Linked DNA regions of Homo sapiens. The protein of the gene in region 1 purifies or fractionates together with the protein of each later gene. This does not show direct contact. Each region holds a gene or a part of one and is shown in the gene's direction. Other genes may lie near its edges.

The links. The genes of interacting proteins can lie anywhere in the genome.
Region 2: the proteins of HSD17B1 (region 1) and NOCT purify together in Homo sapiens (affinity purification with mass spectrometry; one large-scale study listed by BioGRID and IntAct). This does not show direct contact.
Region 3: the proteins of HSD17B1 (region 1) and PDLIM5 purify together in Homo sapiens (affinity purification with mass spectrometry; one large-scale study listed by BioGRID and IntAct). This does not show direct contact.
Region 4: the proteins of HSD17B1 (region 1) and AFAP1L1 purify together in Homo sapiens (affinity purification with mass spectrometry; one large-scale study listed by BioGRID and IntAct). This does not show direct contact.

The regions. Positions count from the first base shown.
Region 1 is NC_000017.11:42,551,443-42,555,714, forward strand, and holds HSD17B1 (17-beta-hydroxysteroid dehydrogenase type 1), read left to right. Parts: upstream 1-1,480; 5' UTR 1,481-1,491; coding exon 1,492-1,588; exon of another isoform or gene 1,589-1,681; coding exon 1,682-1,849; exon of another isoform or gene 1,850-1,996; coding exon 1,997-2,176; exon of another isoform or gene 2,177-2,351; coding exon 2,352-2,445; exon of another isoform or gene 2,446-2,959; coding exon of another isoform or gene 2,960-2,962; coding exon 2,963-3,140; exon of another isoform or gene 3,141-3,226; coding exon 3,227-3,496; 3' UTR 3,497-3,772; downstream 3,773-4,272. UniProt on the Homo sapiens protein: Favors the reduction of estrogens and androgens. Converts estrone (E1) to a more potent estrogen, 17beta-estradiol (E2). Also has 20-alpha-HSD activity. Uses preferentially NADH.
Region 2 is NC_000004.12:139,018,781-139,022,280, forward strand, and holds part of NOCT (nocturnin), read left to right. Parts: intron 1-3,500. UniProt on the Homo sapiens protein: Phosphatase which catalyzes the conversion of NADP(+) to NAD(+) and of NADPH to NADH. Shows a small preference for NADPH over NADP(+). Represses translation and promotes degradation of target mRNA molecules.
Region 3 is NC_000004.12:94,650,942-94,654,441, forward strand, and holds part of PDLIM5 (PDZ and LIM domain protein 5), read left to right. Parts: intron 1-3,500. UniProt on the Homo sapiens protein: May play an important role in the heart development by scaffolding PKC to the Z-disk region. May play a role in the regulation of cardiomyocyte expansion. Isoforms lacking the LIM domains may negatively modulate the scaffolding activity of isoform 1.
Region 4 is NC_000005.10:149,309,859-149,313,358, forward strand, and holds part of AFAP1L1 (actin filament-associated protein 1-like 1), read left to right. Parts: intron 1-97; coding exon 98-277; intron 278-2,253; coding exon 2,254-2,346; coding exon of another isoform or gene 2,347-2,460; exon of another isoform or gene 2,461-2,517; intron 2,518-3,500. UniProt on the Homo sapiens protein: May be involved in podosome and invadosome formation.

The DNA.
Region 1 (4,272 bases):
GCGAAACTCCGTCTCAAAATAAAATAATCTTCTAAAAATGACAGGGCCAGGTGGGGTGGCACTTTTTTATAATCCGAGCACTTTGGGAGGCTGAGGTGGGCAGATCGCTTGACATCAGGGGTTTGAGACCAGCCTGGCCAACATGGTGAAACTCCGTCTCTACTAAAAATACTAAAAATTAGCTGGGCGTGGTGGCGGGTGCCTGTAATCCCAGCTACTCGGGAGGCTGATGCAGGAGAATCGCCTGAACCAGGCAGATGCAGGATGCAGTGAGCCAAGATTAAGACACTGCACTCCAACCTAAGCAATACTTTGTCTCAAAAATAAAAAAAAGCCTGGGAAACAAAGTGAGACCCCGTCTCTACAAAAAAGTCAAAAAATTAGCTGGGTATGGTGGCAGTGATGGCACACACCTGTAGTCCCGGCTACTTGGGAAGCTTTTTAATATTTTTTGCAGAGACCGGGTCTCACTCTGTTACCTGGCCTGGTCTTGAACTCCTGGGCTCCAACAATCCCCTTTCCTGGGCCTCCCAAAGTGCTGGGATTACAGGCATGAGCCACCGTGCCCAGCCTCAAAGCATATTTTAAAGGATAGAAATAAACAGCCATATGAAGAGATACAGACAGGGCGGTCTGGAAGGGTCCAGAGCAGGAGCTTCTATCTCCATAGAGTTGGGGTTACGTCACCCTCTGGGCACATTCTGTCAGCCTCCACACGTTCAGCCCTCAGAAGCTCCCGAACCCTGTCCTTTGGGCCTTTTATGGAGAACTCCATTGGCTGTCCATGACTGAAGCATGGACAACTGTGATAATGTGATTGGGCAAAAAGGGTCTGATCTAAGCCCAGCAAGGCCAGTCCAGATTCTTTGGGCCTTTGTGCAGCATTCCTTTCTCCAGGGTATGGGGCAAGGACCCACTCTGGAATGAGGATCCTACAACCCACAATCAGATTAGAGTCCTGCCTTGGGCAGCTGAAAAGAGGACAGGAGAAGGTCAGAGAGACGAAAGGCTGTTTTTTGAGGCCTGAGGCACCCCAACATGACAACGTAAGACTGTAACCATGGTCATGTGAGTTATGAGCTAGGAACCCTGGACGAAACCAGCACATATACAATCATCTCCCACCTCCCAACGCCTTTACTTTCACAGCCTCTGCAGCAAACTGCGGTCACTATAATCGCTCCTGTGGCACAGAGGCATACCCAGGGGAATCTGCCCAGGGGGCCACTCTGTGCCCACGTGGGAACCCACACCTGCTTGTAAAGCCTCCCCTCCCTCTGACCAGCAACCAGGACAGTTTGTTGTTCCAAGCAGTGGGCTCATGTCTGTTTTGGCTCAGAACAGGGTGGGGAGAGCGGGCCAGGGACCCGCAGGAAGGCTTATCCTTGAGATTGCGTGGGAGACACAACAAGGGGTGGGGGCCCGCAGGCGGGGCGGGGCGAAGCAGGTGATATCAAGCCCAGAGCCCCAGCCTCTCCCCACAGTCTCACCATGGCCCGCACCGTGGTGCTCATCACCGGCTGTTCCTCGGGCATCGGCCTGCACTTGGCCGTACGTCTGGCTTCAGATCCATCCCAGAGCTTCAAAGGTATAGATAGGCAGGGACAGGGAGGGAGAGAAGGGAGGAGCCCTTGGAGGCCAGAAGGGAAGTCAGATCTTCCTCCTCTCCCAAAACCTCCAGTGTATGCCACGTTGAGGGACCTGAAAACACAGGGCCGGCTGTGGGAGGCGGCCCGGGCCCTGGCATGCCCTCCGGGATCCCTGGAGACGTTGCAGCTGGACGTAAGGGACTCAAAATCCGTGGCCGCTGCCCGGGAACGCGTGACTGAGGGCCGCGTGGACGTGCTGGGTGAGCCTCCTGGAAGCATATGGGCTCCTAGGAGCCTTCTCCGCCCTGCGTTGAAACCAACATGTTCCCAGGCCCAGGGAGCACGAGGGGACAGGCCGTGCTGAGGGTGATGCTGAGGCGGGCTGGTCGGGCCTCTTGTCTCCGCAGTGTGTAACGCAGGCCTGGGCCTGCTGGGGCCGCTGGAGGCGCTGGGGGAGGACGCCGTGGCCTCTGTGCTGGACGTGAATGTAGTAGGGACTGTGCGGATGCTGCAGGCCTTCCTGCCAGACATGAAGAGGCGCGGTTCGGGACGCGTGTTGGTGACCGGGAGCGTGGGAGGATTGATGGGTGAGTGGTAGGGAGTGGCCTCGGCAGCTCCAGATTCTTTGTGTGCGGAGCTGAGCCTTGAAGGCAGGTTCCGCGGGGGGGGTGGAGTGGGGTGCCGTCAGCTTGGAGGGGCACCGTCTGCCCGGGGATGACCCCCTGGCCGCTGCGCCTCAGGAACCTCGTCTCCCCACCTAAGGGCTGCCTTTCAATGACGTTTATTGCGCCAGCAAGTTCGCGCTCGAAGGCTTATGCGAGAGTCTGGCGGTTCTGCTGCTGCCCTTTGGGGTCCAGTGAGTCAACACCCCCGTTCCCCGAACCCTCTTAACTCTGACCTAGAGACGCCGAGCACCCTGTCCTGCGGGAGCCGCTCTGGGGCGATCTCCCTGGCCCTCTCTGCCCGGCTCACATTAGCTGTGTGCCAGGCACTTGGGCTGGGCGCATGGCACGCATTGTGCCACCTGCTGACCTAGCTGCTGAAGTGTTGGTATTGTTATGGGGAAGCTCCAGCCCAGAGAGGTTAGGTGACTGGCCCAAGGTCACACAGCGGCCAGGGACCCCGCTAGATTCGAATCCTGACACCAGGGCTCCCTTGTAGCCTCAGATGGATTTGGGAGGGCTGCTCCGGCAGGAACCCGCGTTTCAAATGTTCTGGTTATCCCCAGCGCCCTTTCCGCCTCACTTCCCAGCGCAGCGGTGCTGCTCGCGGTCGGGGGCCGGGACGTGGTTGGGGCTGGGACTGGGGTTGGGGCTGGGACTGGGGCCTGGCTGGCGTCCGCCCCCTCCCACTCGTTGCTCTCCGGCCAGCAGCTTGAGCCTGATCGAGTGCGGCCCAGTGCACACCGCCTTCATGGAGAAGGTGTTGGGCAGCCCAGAGGAGGTGCTGGACCGCACGGACATCCACACCTTCCACCGCTTCTACCAATACCTCGCCCACAGCAAGCAAGTCTTTCGCGAGGCGGCGCAGAACCCTGAGGAGGTGGCGGAGGTGAGCGCCGGGCTGGACTCCAGGAGTGGGGGCGGTGCGTCCTCCGGCGCGCAGCGGTGGCCACAGCTCTCCTCCCGCCGCCGCAGGTCTTCCTCACCGCTTTGCGCGCCCCGAAGCCGACCCTGCGCTACTTCACCACCGAGCGCTTCCTGCCCCTGCTGCGGATGCGCCTGGACGACCCCAGCGGCTCCAACTACGTCACCGCCATGCACCGGGAAGTGTTCGGCGACGTTCCGGCAAAGGCCGAGGCTGGGGCCGAGGCTGGGGGCGGGGCCGGGCCTGGGGCAGAGGACGAGGCCGGGCGCGGTGCGGTGGGGGACCCTGAGCTCGGCGATCCTCCGGCCGCCCCGCAGTAAAGGCTTCCTCAGCCGCTGTCTCCCGCGCCCTTCTTTGTCCCCTGGGTCTGTGTGGTCCCTGGGGATGGGGCGGCGGTAGCAGCTGTGGGTGGCTAATTAAGATAGATCGCGTTAGCCAGTTTTACCAGCGCAGCTAGGCGCGATGGCTGTCGCCTGTAATGCCAGCGCTTTGGGAGGCGGAGGCAGGAGGATCGCTCAAGCCCCGGAGTTGGAGACCAGCCAGAGCAACACAGTGAGACCCCCATCTCTACAAAAATAAAGAAAATTTAAAAATCAGCACAGTGGCACCATTCCTTGAGCCCAGGAGTTGGAGGGTGCAGTGAGCATGATGGGGCCACTGCACTCCAGCCTGGGTGACAGAGTGAGACCCTGTCAATTAATCAAATGAACCAACCAACCGAAAAACTCAGAAACCAAGGTCCAGAAAGAAGCCAGCCCAGGATCACACCTCAAGTCCATATTAAAGGCCAGACACAGTCTCTGGATAACCAAGGGGCATCTGCAGGAGGAGTTAGGTGGGAATTGGCTTGGGGTAGAGTCAGGTTGTGACTTGGACCCCATTAGCCATGAGACCTCAGGCAAGTTCCTTGCTTTCTCTCAGTCTTTCTTTTCTTTCTTTCTTTCTTTTTTTTTTATTTTCTGAGACAGAGTTTCGCTCTTGTTGCCTAGGCTGGAGTGCAATGGGGCAATCTCGGCTCACCACAATCTCCGCTTCCCAGATTCAAGTGATTCTCCTGCCTCAGCCTCCCAAGTAGCTGGGATACCGGCTAATTTTG
Region 2 (3,500 bases), on another chromosome or scaffold:
CTCTTGACTTGGAAATGGCACAAGGGTGCAGGAAAGCAGGAAGTCCCTTTTGGGCTTCTAGAAATGGGTGGCATTTCAGCTGGCTCTTGAAGCATGGTTAGGATTGGAAGAGATTACTATAAAGCGTTTTGTTTGGAAAAAGCAGGAGTAAATGCAGAAAGGCATGAGACACACACAGATGAGGAAGGGTGAGAGAAGAGGCACTTTGCAAAAATGGACATTGTTTTCCAAAGAGCCTCAGACCCAGCACTAAGTGCTTTTTAATTTTAATTTTTATTTTTATTTTTTTTGAGACAAGGTTCTCTCGCACTGTTGCCCAGGATGGAGTGTAGTGGCGCCACCTCTGCTCACTGCAACCTCCACCTCCCAGGCTCAAGCAGTTCTCCTGTCTCAGCCTCCTGAGCAGCTGTGACTACAGGCACACGCCACTGTGCCGGGCTAATTTTTGTATTTAGTAGAGACAGGATTTCAACGTGTTGCCCGGGCTCGTCTCAAACTCCCCAGCTCTGGTGATCCACCTGCTTTGGCCTTCCAAAGTGCTGGGATTACAGGTGTGAGCCACTGCGCCCAGCCTATGAAGTGCTTTTTTAAAATGCAGATTCTTGGATCCTACTGTAGACCTATTAAGTCTGAGTCATTCATGATGGGCCCTGGATTCCACATAACCAAATGAAATGACAAAAAGAATAACTCCAGATTGTTCTTCTATGCCCTCAAATTTGGACATCTGGCACCCATATGTGAGAGAGACATTGAAGGGGCCAAAAGCTCCTCTCCACTCCTGAGCCTTGTGGTGGGGAGTAGTGAGTCCCGACAGCTGTCCACATTTGCTAATCAGTTCCTGCATAACTTATGCCCCTTGGCAATTGGTAGTTATTGGGAAGATAAGTACAGTCCCTTTGGAGTTATCAGATTCCAGGTTGTTAGAATTAAAAGGTGACCCTAGGGATGATCTCGGTGTTTGGCTTTCTTTTCTCAAGGATAGCAGCCCCCCTAAGAAGTAGCAGTTGCCACAGTTACTGTACTGGATGAAACGCAGTTGGAAGTCATCTGTGGATTTATAAATGCTATCCTCCACATCCCTCCTCCTCAGAGAATGAAGAGCTGGCTGAACTACTGTTCTCTACCATTAGAACATTTGCTTTTTTTCATGGTACAATTTATAGGCAAATGCCACCAGCTCATTTGAGAAGGCAGCTTTATTTAATATGTCCTTTAACTATGTGAGTAAACTGCTTATGAGAGAGAAGAAACGGGAAAGCTTGTCATTATCAAGCTGCTATGGAATAAATTGCTTTCCTTGTGGGAAAACTAATGTATGATTTTTCTGTTAGCATTCAATGGCAACAGTTTAAACATGGTGAACTGGGGTTCTTTGGGGTTAATAACCATGGCTCCAGATTCACATTCCACACACTTAACATTTGTAAATCATTTAACCTTGCTTGCTGTCTCAACACTAGACTTTACCTAGAACAAATGAATAAGATCAATTGATAGCAATTTATCCACAAGCTTTATTGAATAGTACATGTAAAAGGTGACATGACTAATTGCAGTGGGAGTTGAGAAGAAAGAAATCAGTGTGGCTGAATTTGTCAAGAAATGCTTTGCTTCTAATAGGTGAAAAAGGAGGGTGTTTTGGAAGGGGACAGTTTGCGGGGTGGTGGGGGCAGGCAGAGAAGACCACACACACAATGCCTGGAAGAAGGTGGCGCTCGCATGCAGGAGCTGTGGCAAGCATCTTAGGAAAAGGGGTAGAGGCAGAATCATTTGGGACAGTTGTTAAAATGCAGATTTCTGGCCTTTCAGCCCTCTGCTTGATCAGTTTCCTGTGGAGAAGCCCGGTGGAGTGCATATTTAACAAGTGCCTCAGGGGATTCTTCCAAAAAGATTAGGGAGTATTTATGAGCTCTGCCCCTCCTTTCCCCAAAGGTACTTATTCCTGGAAAGCTTGAGAAGCTCTGGAGAGGATTCTGGAAGAGCCTTAAGACCTTTGGTCTGGCCGGGCACAGTGGTTCACGCCTGTAATCCCAGCACTTTGGGAGGCCGAGGTGCGGATCACTTGAACTGAGGCATTCAAGACCAGCCTGGGCAACATGGTGAAACCCTGTCTCTACTTACATTAGAAAAAAAATAGCCAAGTGTGGTGGTGCACACCTGTACATCCCAGCTGCTTCGGAAACTGAGGCAGGAGAATCACTTGAACCCAGGAGGCGGAGGTATCAGTGAGCCGAGATTGCGCCATTGCACTCCAGCCTGGGCGACAGTAGGAGCAATACTCTGTCTCAAAAAAAAAAAAAAAAAAAGGATCTTTGAGCTTGGGGCCTAAGGCAGTTCAAGAGACCCCTGAGAAAGAACATTGACCCCCGAAAAAAGCAGCTTTAAAAAATTGTATATTTTGTCGAGACGGGTTTTGCCGTGTTGCCCAGGCTGGTCTCGAAATCCTGGGCTCAAGCAATCCTCCCGCCTCAGCCATCCAAAAGTGCTGAGATTACAGGCATGAGCCATCACGCCCCGCCAAAAGCAGCTTTTAAGAAAGGGAAGAAATTCCAGGGCCGGGCACAGTGGCTCAAGCCTGTAATCCCAGCACTTTGGGAGGCCAAGGCAGGCGGATCACCTGAGGTCGGGAGTTCGAGACCAGCCTGACCAACATGGAGAAACCCCATTTCTACTAAAAATACAAAATGAGCTGGGCGTGGTGGCACGCACCTGTAATCCCAGCTACTCTCAAAGAAAAAAAAAAGGGAAGAAATTTGCATATTAATGAAAGTTCAGTGAGAGGAAACTTGAGACTGAGGTTGTAATGGGAGTGTATCCATGTAGTCACTCTAAGTCACAACTTAGAGTAAAATGAGGTTTCTATGATGTTTACTAAAAGAAAAGTGAGGTAATTGTGTTCTGGCTTCTTGGAGTTAGGAAGGGAGATACAGCGTCTGTATTTGCTGTCAGGAGTCACTGGTGACTAATTACAGTTTTTCTGGTTTTTTTTTTTTTTAGACAGTTTTGCTCTTGTTGCCCAGGCTGGAGTGCAGTGGCGCAATCTTGGCTCACTGCAACCTGTGCCTCCCGGGTTCAAGCAATTCTCCTGCCTCAGCCTCCCAAGTAGCTGGGACTACAGGCATGCGCCACCATGCCCGGCTAATTTTTTTGTATTTAGTAGAGACAGGGTTTCACCATGTTGGTCAGGCTCCTCTCGAACTCCTGACCTCAGGTGATACACCCGCCTTGGCCTCCCAGAGTGCTGGGATTACAGGTGTGAGCCACCACGCCCGGCCACTAATTAGAGTTTATAGGGCTTTGATAGCCACTTAAGTGGTGGTTATACTTCAGTAGATAATTAGAAATTTGAAGGACAGTGTGCCTGGGCGTTTAGCCTCATAGTAAACCTGTTTGGACTTCCACGGAAAGCAGCTAAGATACTTTTTATTTATTGTTATTCTTAGAATGGGAGAAAATCAGCCTTCCCACGGAGGGAGTGAGACCTCAAGTGAAAACCT
Region 3 (3,500 bases), on another chromosome or scaffold:
CATGTACTTAGTAAGGGCTCACAGGACATCGAATACTAGAAGAGATAGCTGAATACTTAATTCCACTCTGCAGTTATCTAGGCCTGTCATTCCTGTTCACAAATGGAAACCCAATCCTACCTGGAACAAGAAGAACTTCTTTAGTGTTAATCCTGTGTTAATGAATTTGTTAAATTAGTCTTTGCTGACACAGAGAAGAAAACACTTTGCTATATGTGAAAGATTAATTTTATTGTTTAATCTGTGCATAATTTCAAGGGCATTGATGGAGAAAGATGCTCTTTCAGGACAGCCAAGAAGTATCAAGTTAGGCCAGTAGTTGCCCTGAGCATGCTTGTTTAAGAAAGGAGATCTGAGAGGAGCAAGGGTCATTTTCAGCTTGTTTTTTAAAGGTGCAGTGGGAATTTCTTTACTGTCTAAAATTCCTTTTGCTATTTGAAAGGAACTAATGAAATATTTTAAAGTCATCCTTTTAATGGACTGTAGTTTTAATTTATGTATTTATAGTGAACTATATTCCAGCAAGTTTGTAAAAAGACTTTTACAGGTATGTGAAATATAAGATAATCTTATAAATTACAAAAGGGGAAAAAGAATGAAATTCATCGATAGGCTCGTTAAAAATGAAGCTAACGTCGAGACTGGACGATACTAAAATAATGACCTGCCCACTTGCCTCTGGTTAGACTGTAAATCTGGCTTTAGGCCTTCTAGTAGTCTACCAAAAATGAAAGGTAGTTTTGCAATTTACAATAAGATAAAAATAAGACTACTGCTGAGGAAAAGCATAATAGTTCTTGCTGCAGAAATCAGGGAGGAATTTTTCTGAATGAGACCATGTGAAAGTGACGCTGGATGAGATCTAACAACACTCCAGCAACAACTTGCAGGAAGAGCAAGGGTGAATTTCATAGAGCTGTGTCCTGTAACAACTACCAGTACAGGTTCATGTATCACAACAAGCACCGTTCATAAAAGGAATAATCCTGCGGGGTGCAGCAGGCCCAATATGCTGTGATTCACAGAACCCAGTTTTCTGATGATCTGACTTGAACTCAATACATATTTTAGAAAATCTGGCAAATGGAATGTATTTTCCTTGGTCAGTTATTCTTAAATGTCTTTTTTTCTTCTCAGATGAACTTTGTCAAATATTTGATAGCATTGATAGACATGTTCCAGGAGCAGAGCTTTTCATTTTGTTCCAGGTACATACCAACACTTATGCTTTAACAGAATGCAGTTTGAAGTTGGATTGACTTCTTTGAAAACTGAGAAGCCAAATAAGAATACTAGCCTCAAGAGTCCTCCAGCCTTATGGATGAGCTAAAGATGTGCCCTAGTAAAAAACTCACCCTAGTAAATGGCTTTGAATCTGTTTTAATGTGCAGCCAGAGAGTAGCATGAAACCCCAAAGCTCTACCATGCTCTGTGTTATGGTCACAGTAAATTGAGCCTGGAAGATTTTTCATGCGTGTATAACCAGTTGCCCACCTGGCGGAAAAACACAGGGCACTCATCAAACTTTGTCTGGCTTTGAGCAGTGTGATTCCTGGTTTATCTTTGCTGATAAACTACTTGCCAAACATACACTGAGAAAATTAGATGAAGGAACTCGTTGAATAGGATTGTTATTTTATAAGTCAGTTGAAAATGATGGACCACTTACCAAAAGTAATATATTCGATTACAGAATAGGTGATCTGTAGCCTTTCTTTTCTGGCAGGAATTAGTAAACAAAGGCATTCCTTATTAGTCATAACAAAATTATGGTACCCTAAAGTTTTAAAAATAATAATAATAAACTGCCTATCTCAAACTTAAGAGAATGATATGTACTAGCTTATACAAAATGGCATCATGTTATTAATAAGAAACAAGTTAACAAAAAGTAGGGCTAGAAAATACCCTCTTACACCCCACGTAAAAATTTTTAATCACTCATCAAGAGCCTTTCTCCTTTTGTGACTCTTGCAGAATTAGGTGCTGATTCTGAGTAAACATCAATATGGTGACAAAGAATTTACAGTGGGAGATAGTTATTGAATAGCAAGGTTTATGTTATTGTCAGAATTTTAAAAATGCTGTGACTTTGCGATACTCATTGCTATGACTTCTCCTGTTAATAATCTGCCTGGAAGTCTGGTGTCTGATGCTTACCAACAATTACCATGTGGTCGCTTAGGGATGATAAGTGATGTTAATGAGGTCAAAGGCAGAATATCAGTTGACTAGAGCGGCATACTAGAAATCAGGAAATTCAACTTCTGGCCTTGGCTGGGTCAGTGATTTTATGATATTTGTCATATCTTTTGAACATTCTGTACCTTGGCTTCTCCATCTGTTAAACTGAATTCATAATAACTGTCCTGGTCTGTCTCACAGGAATGTTGCATGGACAAATTAGATAAGTGTAAAAGTGCCTTGGAGGTAAAGCTGCTCTATGAATATAAATTAGTGTGATATAGCTACTGAAAAGTATGTTGCAGAGGCTAGAATGGTTAGTCTCTGCAGGCTTCATGACTAGATAAGGCTTCATAATGGATTCCTGCCAAGCAAACCAAGCCCATCTTATCAGTTCATGACCATAAAGTATTTAATGGGGAAAAAAATCTCTTACAAACATTTGTTACCTTGATACAAATGTGTGTTAAAAATCGGTCATGTTGGGGAGGGGGGAGAGGGAAGTTGGTGCACAGTGGGTATAAAATTTCAGTTATACAAGATGAATAAGTTCTAGAGATCTGCTGTACAACATTGTGCCCATAATTAACAATACTACATTGTACTCTTAAAAATCTGTTAAGAGAGTGGATCTCATTTTAAGGGTTCTTACCACAATAAAATTAAATTTTTGAAATAAATCAGTCATATTTGAGTGAAATGAAACCTTTCTGAGTAGTTTCAGACAATTGATAATACCTAGTTTACAGTTCCTGTAGTCATTTTGGAGGGTGAGGACTTGATGTGTTTAGTAAAGTTGAGAAATAAATACATGAAAGAATGTGTGGGGAAGAGAAATTGTGGGGAAGAGAAATTGTCTCAGGTAATAGTTATTACTATTTTTAGCACTATGACTTACCAAATTGAAGTTTTTGTTTGTTTCTTTTGTAGAAGTGTCAAAGTCTCATCTCTGCCTAAACCATATATTTTTTTCTGGTTGCCTCATGTTCTGTCACAGTCACAGTTAACATCCTCATTCTCAATCCTACCCATGATGCAGACAGATTGCCTCATTTCAGCTCAATAAAACATCACCAAATTCCCTTAGGCAGAAAAAGGGTGGGGAGTGCCCTTTCTTGAAGGAATCCCTTAAGTGCACGTCTCCCGTTTTCTTTTCACATCAATGCAGAGTCCCTCTGTGAATTTACAACACCCAACACCCATGAGTTCAGTCCTTAAGAAGGAAAATTGAGCAAGTATTTAATTGGTTGGACATTGCATAAAAGAGGTCCATATCCAGGCTAACTCTAGAAATTTTATTCTCAAACTTAGTTGGC
Region 4 (3,500 bases), on another chromosome or scaffold:
AAGGGAGGTCGGGCTTCCCCCGAGCCTTTGTGTGAGGATGTCTCCCTCCTCTACCCTCTACTTCAGAAGATCCTGATGTGTTTCTCTCCCTGTCCAGTGTTACAAAAGCTCCAAGGATCGGCAGCCACATCTGAGGTTGGCACTGGATACCTGCAGCATCATCTACGTGCCCAAGGACAGCCGGCACAAGAGGCACGAGCTGCGTTTCACCCAGGGGGCTACCGAGGTCTTGGTGCTGGCACTGCAGAGCCGAGAGCAGGCCGAGGAGTGGCTGAAGGTGCGTGGCCTGCACCTGACCTTCCCGCCTTCTCACCCTTTCTCTCTTCCCCAAGCCAGCCCTCAGTAGAGCTGGCTCCTGTCCCTGGAAGAGCCTCTTGCTCAGTGCCTGAGCCCAAGTGCCCTCTGCGTGGCTAGGGCTTATGTATGGAAATGGGCCTCGGATATCTCCAAGAGGCAGACTTCATGCTGGAGACCTGTGTCCCTTCTGGTTATTTGAATTCCCTTTCCAAATCCTTACTGTGGGCTTATTCAGCCTGCACTTGTATACCTCCTGGAACTGGAGGCTTAGTATGTACAAAGGAAGCTGATTTCATCATTAGACCAGTGAATTCTTAAAACAACAACAACAAAGGAAAAATCCTTCCTTGCCTTGAAACGTACATCCTTATAATGACCACCCATGGGCCAGTTTCTGCCTCTGCAGCTACACAGAACAATGAGAGTCACCACAAAATGAGCACTTACTTTGTACCATGCATTGTGCCAAGAGCTTTACATACGTGACCTCATTTCTGCTTGAAAATGGGACAAAATATTATTGTTCCCATTTCGCAGATGAGGAAACTAAGACACAGCTTTGAGAACTTATGTGACTTGCCAAACGTCACACAACCAAAGTGGTGGGAGCCAGAATTTGAAGCTAAGTAGTAAATCTACTCCAAAGGCCATAGGCAGGATGACATAGTGATGACATGGGAGAGGGGACTTTGTGGCACCCATACTGGAGTGCAAGCCCCAGGCCTAAAGGGCACTTACTGGCTGTGTGACCTTCTGCAAATGACTTTGACCCTCTGTGCCTGTTTTTTTCATCTGTGAAATGGTCCTTGGAAGGATTCTGGAGAGCACTTGGCACAGCGCCTGCCAGGCAGTGAGTGTGTGGTAACTGTCAGTAACTACTGTTGTGATGACTGCGATGCCCCACCCCCCATTCCTTTACAGCAGACCTCATCCTTGCACCGCCTCTACTTCACTCTGACACCATCCTTTCCTCCTCTGATCTTCCTGCTGGAACAATGAAACCAAACACCTCCCTCTCTACCCAGCCCCTTCCTTCCTGTGATAACCAGCCCCCATGATGGAACATTTGGTGTTTCTCATTACCCCTTTGTCTCAGGAGGGAAAGAAGGGAGAGAACCTGCCTGTTGGGGGAGCCTGTACCCTCCACGAGCTGGTTGGGTCGGCAGACGAATCCCTAGACTGGAGTTAAAAGAGACTTGCCTTGACATTGATCCTGGGCGGCCGTTAGCCCAGAGGTTAACAGTGGGCAGCTGAACTGCCTGCATTTAGTTTCTGGCTCTGCTGCCACCTAACAGGTGGCTTCCCCTCTGCGAGGCTCATCATCTTAAGCTGTAACTCAGGGCTTACAAGGCTGGTGGGGGATAAAATGGGATAATCCACAGAAAGCCACCAATTAGGTGAGCAACAAATGGTAGCTGTGATTATTCCCTGATCTCATGCTTATTGCTGTGTGGCCTTGGCAAGTGAGCGGATGCCTTTAGGAGATGGAGGTGATAACTCCAGCTACCCTACAGGTTGCTGTAAAGGTGCACATGGTCACAGAAGCAGGTCCCTCATGCTTGTGAGGCTTTATGGTTCCCATCACTCTTCGCATCCATGGTCACACTGTCCTCAGGCAACCCAAGGAGGGAAGCAGAGGACTAGTATATTCCCATGTTGCAGATGTGGACACTGAGGCCCAGAGCAGGGAAGTGGCTCTTCCAAGACCACACAACTAATTAGCAATAAGCCTCTTGGTCCCCATCCTTGTATCTTTTCAGCCCAGGGGACAGATATGGGAGAAAGCCTTTACAAACCCATGTGCCCCACACATATGCAGGTAGCTGTGTCAGTCCATCTGTTCCCCACAGTGGCCCTGACCCTCTGTTCTACAGCATTCACCACACAGTCCCCATTCTTCCTTTGCATCAACAGCTTCCCTGCCCACCCGTTCACAGCTGTGTGTCCTCTTCACAGGTCATCCGAGAAGTGAGCAAGCCAGTTGGGGGAGCTGAGGGAGTGGAGGTCCCCAGATCCCCAGTCCTCCTGTGCAAGTTGGACCTGGACAAGGTATATCTGTCTCCACTAAGTCTTCCCCAGGCCAGGCAGTGGCCACTCAACACGGGCTCAACCCCAGGGGAACTAACTGGCTGGGGGGAAAGTCAGGCAACTGCCAAACTGTAGGTGCCCAGCACAGAGCTGGCACAACAGTAGGTGCTTAATAAATGTCTCCTGAATTCATGAATGCATGAACAAACGAGTGCTTATGCCCAAAGTGCAGTACAAGCCAGAGGAGGGAGTGATGCACCCTGCCAGGACAGGAGGAGGTCACATTGCAATTGTGCCATGAAAAATAAGTTGAAATTTGTCAATTAGAAAAAGAGGGTGTATAATCCCAGCACTTTGGGAGGCCAAGGTGGGCACATCACTTGAGCCCCGGAGTTCAAGACCAGCCTGGACAACATAGTGAGACCTCATCTCTAAAACAAAAAAGTTACAAAACAATTATCCAGGTGTGGTGGCACATGCCTGTAGTCCTCACTACTCAGGAGGCTAAGGTAGGAGACTTACTTGAGCCTGGCAGGTGGAGGCTGCAGTGAGCCACGATTGCGTCACTGCACTCCAGCCTGGGCAACAGAGTGAGACCCTGTCTCAGAAAAAAGAAAGAAAAGAGAGAGAGAGAAAGAAAGAAAGAGAAAGAGAAGGAGTAGGCCGGGCGCAGTGGCTCACGCCTGTAATCCCAGCACTTTGGGAGGCCGAGGCGGGTGGATCACCTGAGTTCAGGAGTTCGAGACCAGCCTGACCAACATGGAGAAACCCCATCTCTATTGAAAATACAAAAATTAGCCAGGCATGGTGGCACATGCCTGTAATCCCAGCTACTCAGGAGGCTGAGGGAGGAGAATTGCTTGAACCGGGAGGCAGAGGTTGTGGTGAGCCGAGATTGTGCCATTGCACTCCAGCCTGGGCAAAAAGAGCAAAGCTTCATTTAAAAAAAAAAAAAAAAGAGAAGGAGCGTGCCTGTTTGGAACATGAGAGAAGCAGTCATTAGCCAGTTGGTCAGGCTGTTAGCAAATATGTCCCAGTACCTACACATTGCCAGGTATTGTGGGTAACAAAGGGCCTCAGACCCAAGTCCTCCCCTTAAGGAGATTACAGTCAAGGGGAAGGGTTAAGACCCACAGACATGGGCCTTGCACGATGTAATCGAGGCTAGTATTTAT